Homo sapiens: one gene and its partner. The protein of the gene in region 2 interacts with the protein of the main gene of each other region in a biochemical or structural test. Each region holds a gene or a part of one and is shown on either strand. Other genes may lie near its edges.

Region 1 (3,654 bases), on a different chromosome or scaffold from region 2:
CTACCCACCTCCACCGGTCCAATCTGCCCCCTCCCCGTGCCTCCACCCACCTCCGCTTGGTTCTTTGGTGGTTTTCTTTTGTGCTCCCTCTCCTGAGGCATCTGAGTGTGGCCTGAGCAGCGTTGTGCAAGCTGGGAGTGGGACGGTGACAGCCTCCCCTCCCCCTCCCCCTAGATCCGATCTGTGATCAGGAGGAGCTGGGAGTCTGGCCACGCACACCCCATGTCCCGGGAGCCCTCCCCTCGCCGCCGGCTGGACCCTGCCACCTTGAGCAGGACCCCATCCCAGGAACAGCTCATCGCGGAGCTGCAGGGGCGGCTGGGCATCCAGCCTGAGGCAGAGGAGCCGGCGGAGGCGGCGGGGCCCTCTGCCCAGGACTGGCTGACCGAGGGCGTCATCATCACTGTGCAGCCACGTGGGAAGCGGGCCGGGGGGCAGCTCGTAGAGAAGGTGGCGAGGAGATGCCCATGGCTGGGGCTGGGCCAGAGCCAAGCACCTGGGGTCCGGGTTCTTCCCTGGCCCCAGTGCTGGCCGGAGGGGAGATCTGGGGAGAGGGTGGGGGTTTCTTGCCTCCTGTGACTTTGGAAGACTGGCCCCACTCTTGGTGCAGAGTGGGAAGGCCCAGGGGGAGCCTGGGGAGGTCCCGCCACCCCTGTGGGCTGAGCTGGCGATTTCTTCCTCATCGCTCTCCCTCCTTTCTTCTCCCCAGGTTGTCTTCCCTCCTGGCTCTCCCATTCCCCTGAGAAGAACCATCTCTGTCCTGGCTTCTCCTTCTGTCCCTTTGCTCCAGCATCGCACAGACGCCGCGGCCAGCAGCTCTTCTCCCCTGCCCAGCCTGCTCGCCTCCTCCCCCCTGGGGCCCTCAGCTTATACCTGTGGTTCTTCTGGGGTCCAGAGTGCAGGGGAAGAGCCCCATGATGAGGGGGTGCAGGGCCCTGCCCTTCCCATTCCTGCACCCCACACCATGAGGTCCGTGGGCTGCCAGACTGATGAGGACCCGCTCTTCCCCCCGATGCAGGCAGGCCTTAAAGGAGCCCCTCCCTTTCTGTCCCCTGTCCTAATGCCTGAGCCATCCCCCACTCTGCACACACACACGTGCACACACACATACACAGATACCCTCCATCCCTCCATCTACAAGCCCCAGCACAGTAACCACAGTCCTGCCGTAAACCTTGACCCCGGTCTTCCCCCACTCAGAAGGTCCGCTGCCCTCTTGCTTTTCTGTGGGTCCACCCATGTCTGCTCCTTCCTCGACTGGTCCTCAGTACTGCCCCGGGCTCCCATCGAGGAAAGAAGCCACTCCAGAAGGGAGACCAGAAACCTGTCTCCTCCCTTCCAGCCCCCAGGCCCAGCGCCCGGTGAGGCCTCATCACTGAGCCCGGCCACCTCCCCTTGCCATTTCCTCTGCCTTTGGTCGACTCCCCTCCCTGTCCTTCTTCCTTTCTCCCTAGGCCTCTCTCTCAGGGCTCTTTTTCTCCAGATTTTTTCCCCCAATTTTGGTCCTGCCGGTGGGGGAGAAACCCTCAGATCTCATCCTAGATTCCCTTTTAGTCCAGTGACAAGGTCTTGTATTCTTTCTTAATTTTTAAAAAAGATTTCTTACCCTCATCTCTTCCCCTATCTAAGATCCAGGGCCTGGAGCAAAGAGCGGATGGGGAGCGGTGCTGGGCGGCCGGCTGGCCTCGGGACGGCGGGCGGAGCAGCCCCGGAGGGCAGGACGAGGGAGGGGTCAGTGCCAAGGCTGGGCTGGGTGTCCTGCGTGTCGTGCTCTCCCTGGGCTTGGCCATGCCTGCTGGGTGCCCTCAGCCTTTCCGACCCTGGTGGGCCCCTCCGACCACCAGGAGTCCTGCTGACGTCACTCCCACTTTAGGGCTCCTGGCCCCTGGAGGAGGTTGTACTTCTTGTCTCCATCAGCTCATCTGTCCAGGAGGGAGAAAAGTACCCCCATCCCTGTGCTGCCAGACACCGTACCCCGAGCCTCAGGAGTCCTGACCAGCCCCCTCCGTGTCCACAGTTCATGGCCCAGGGGAAGACAGGGAGCAGCTCACCCCCTGGGGGGCCCCCGAAGCCCGGGAGCCAGCTGGACAGCATGCTGGGGAGCCTGCAGTCTGACCTGAACAAGCTGGGGGTCGCCACAGTCGCCAAAGGAGTCTGCGGGGCCTGCAAGAAGCCCATCGCCGGGCAGGTGATGAGGGGGAGTGGGCAGGGGTGTGGCCAGTGGACTCCTGCAGGGGTGGGGGTGCTCCGGGGCTGGCCTTGGCCCTGGACCGCATTCCATCTCCTCCTCAGGTTGTGACCGCCATGGGGAAGACGTGGCACCCCGAGCACTTCGTCTGCACCCACTGCCAGGAGGAGATCGGATCCCGGAACTTCTTCGAGCGGGATGGACAGCCCTACTGTGAAAAGGACTACCACAACCTCTTCTCCCCGCGCTGCTACTACTGCAACGGCCCCATCCTGGATGTGAGTTCCTCATCCGGCACCGCGCCCGCTTCCGCTCATTCCAGCTTCACCGCAGCCCTCTGAGGATGCAGGGGGTGCCGTGGGAGGCTCAGAGAGGTCACATGCCCGAGGCTCACAGGGCTAGGGAACAGTGGGGCCGGATTCACAGCCACACCTGAACCACAGCCTGTCCCGATGTGCATCGGGCAGCCCCACCTCCCTTCACCTCCCATCTCGATTCCTTTCTGTGGAGACTCCCAGGACTCAGGAGCCCTGAGGAGATAAATGGAGTTGGATGCCAGCGGCCTCACTCTCCCTCTCTGTGAACTTAGGAAATGCCTGGCCTCTCTGAGCCTATGTTTCTTCACTTATAAAATGGGAGTCATAGAACTTGTGCCCTCTACTTGGGGTGAGGAGTAGAGGAGAGGGTATGTGTCTGGCTTGTCCCATCCTGAGTAACTCTGAATTCTTAGAGGCATTCACAGCACAATTAGGAGAGACCCCCATCTTGGGAGTGTTTTGCTCTGTCTATGGCTATGAGCTGCGGGTGGAAGGACGGCCTTGCTGGGCGTCTCAGTTGTGAGATCTGCCCAGAGCTCAGCCTTGATCCCACATTTTGCTTTCACAGAAAGTGGTGACAGCCCTTGACCGGACGTGGCACCCTGAACACTTCTTCTGTGCACAGTGTGGAGCCTTCTTTGGTCCCGAAGGTACGGGCTGGACCGGCGGACTGACCCACCGCCTCTTAGGAGGGCCGGGGAGGTGGGGGTGGGAGACGCTGCTGAGGTTGGAGTCAGAGTGGCTCCACTTCTGGAAGCCGGAATGAACTGTGCCTCCAAAACCCCCGCTCCCCAGGGTTCCACGAGAAGGACGGCAAGGCCTACTGTCGCAAGGACTACTTCGACATGTTCGCACCCAAGTGTGGCGGCTGCGCCCGGGCCATCCTGGAGAACTATATCTCAGCCCTCAACACGCTGTGGCATCCTGAGTGCTTTGTGTGCCGGGTAAGGAGCCCCTGACCACATCTGGAGGGGCGAGGAGCAGGCAGTGGGGAGAGAGGGGTCTTCCTCATTGTGCTGTCTGGATCCAACTCAGAGGCCTCATTTGGGGTTATTAATTGGGGGAGCAGGCAGGGGATCTCCTTCCTCCAGTCCAGTAGGTCCTGGGCCAGGGTTTGTACTGAGGCTGGGACAAACCAGGAGCAAGGTA
Region 2 (2,327 bases):
AGGTAATTTAAGATATCATGTTAATTTCTAAATTACAGCATCTTTCAATCTCCAATACAAGATTACTTTCAAGATAGATGCCATAAAAGGAATAGATGGCACAAAAGCAAATTCTAACACTTTTGCCAAAGAGTGACTTTCTATCCAACATATTTTCAGAAATGACTGTTACTAGGTGGTAAAACTGTTAGGGTAAAATTTGTTATAGACTAACTTACTGATTGGTGGCAGGCAACACTTGGCCCTAGGATAAAAATATTTTTCTTAAAAAATTTTAAATTTATTGGTAATAAAAATACTTACTGCATATGATTAAGCTCTTTCAAGCTACTAATAAAAATCTATACTCCAAGACCCATTACTTTTGAAATTCACTAAAGCTAAAATAGAAGGTTTTGTCTAGAGTCCTACCTTGTATACCTCAACTAAATGTGCTCCTATTTTACGAATATATTCTCAAGATTAGCTCAGTCAACTTGTGCATGAAATTATGAGATATGGCAAGATAAATTTCAATCATTTTTAAAACACAGCAAAATAGTCAATTATTTAAGGGAAATATTTATCATTACCTAATGAGGACAGCAGTTAAAGAGCTATTAAACTCTCCATTTCTAATGTACAACATGATGTAATTGCACAAAAATAGGTATAACTGATCATCATCCCCAGGCCTTGAGGAACTGTGAATAAATCATATATTCCTCTAGAAGGTTCACCACTCTACAGAGCCATATAAAACTACAACTTGCCACCTATGTGGCTTTTATTAATAATCCTAGAAAAGTAATTTATACTAACGAACTTCAGAAAGGTTTAAAAGGTTTTCAGTAACTTGAACTGCTTATAAAAATACCTTTTAGAAGTTATTCTGACAGCCGAGACTGATTTTACACATTACCTTGCTTAAACAGAGGTAATATTCCTGTAACATCATGCTATTGCTAGAAGTAAATCAGTGAGTTGCCTTAAGAGTTTTTATTCCAAGCATTACTCATAAAGTTGGGGTAAGGGGTCCAGGTTCCTGTCAACTGTAAAGATTTCTCACTGATCTTGACCCATTCTCAGTAACAGTTTTGGAAATATAAGGAAAAGTACATGAATGGAGGAAAATAAATTAATACTAACTAAAAACTCTGCTCTACTCTAAGAATGTAATACTTACTATATGCATAAGCAACTATCTCAAAGAACTACACAGTATTTTAATAAAAATGCTTTTTTTATACTGTAAATAGCCAGACTAAAACAATGGAATAAATATGCTTTGGAAATAATTTCCAACTCCATATGGCTTTAAGCATTATGATATTCAGGTGAAATTAAACAATTACACAAAAGAGCCATTTGTGATTATGGAACTAATTTTTAGTATAGGTTGGCTTGAAGGATTTGACCTAAAATTTATACAAGTTAAAAATGTAATAAAATATTGTGGATTTAATATAAACAGAAGTGTAATAGGATCTACCAGATTTTCATACTAAAACAAAATATTGTACCTTTGTTATTAAAAGCAAGAATTTGGATGGTATCATGTATGTGTTTATAAAATTCTACCATATGAGTGATTAAAAAAATCCAAGTTCATGCAGTTATAAAGTCTTTAGTATTCTGAAAAGTAAACTGTAGTGTAATATGTATTAACATTAAGTACCTATACAAAAGACATGATTGCTAAGGTCCAAATTTGGACTGCTTTAAAACAACAACAACAACAACAACAACAACAACAAATAAAGTTCCGTACATTAAATCAGAAACAGTAACTGAAGGAGGTACTATTTTATATAAAGTAGTAAATCAGGCACTACCTGTCTTATATACATTGAATAAAAACTATCCCTTGAAATTTTATTATTTAAATACCTAAAAACACAAGTCACCCTATGTTATTAAATGTATGTCTGAACTTATTTATAAGGAGAAGGTTGACAAATATAATTCTCATTTTGTGGTTAATGCCAATTAGCACTATCAGCAGTAAAGCCTTGGATTTTTACTCCTCATGAAGAAAGTTTAAATCTATAATAAAGTTGCTAATTCTAGTGGGTCAAGATGTAGCATAACTTAAAAACTGCAGTTAAGTTTCTGAGTTTCCTTCACCATTTTCATGAGGTTGAAGCTGCTCCCTTTCTTGTTCTTCTTGAGGTGGCCGGACCCGTTTAAAAAAGCCCATCTGTCAGTTGAAGAAAAACCATTATTACTGTCACATCAGTGTAGAATACGAAAAGTATTTTTTGGGTGACTATATTACCACTAAGAACATTTAAATTGTATTTCATAAAATTTATCTTCCCTCATATAATAAGTAATGCTCATCAAGT

What was found. The genes of interacting proteins can lie anywhere in the genome.
Region 1: the proteins of ITGAV (region 2) and PXN form a complex in vitro, tested with the Homo sapiens proteins (one study listed by BioGRID).

The regions. Positions count from the first base shown.
Region 1 is NC_000012.12:120,213,637-120,217,290, reverse strand, and holds part of PXN (paxillin), read left to right. Parts: intron 1-174; coding exon 175-450; intron 451-709; coding exon 710-1,018; coding exon of another isoform or gene 1,019-1,361; intron 1,362-1,629; coding exon 1,630-1,731; intron 1,732-1,873; coding exon of another isoform or gene 1,874-2,017; coding exon 2,018-2,188; intron 2,189-2,292; coding exon 2,293-2,466; intron 2,467-3,073; coding exon 3,074-3,155; intron 3,156-3,300; coding exon 3,301-3,449; intron 3,450-3,654. UniProt on the Homo sapiens protein: Cytoskeletal protein involved in actin-membrane attachment at sites of cell adhesion to the extracellular matrix (focal adhesion). Recruits other proteins such as TRIM15 to focal adhesion.
Region 2 is NC_000002.12:186,677,049-186,679,375, reverse strand, and holds part of ITGAV (integrin alpha-V isoform 1 preproprotein), read right to left. Parts: intron 2,180-2,327; coding exon 2,084-2,179; 3' UTR 1-2,083.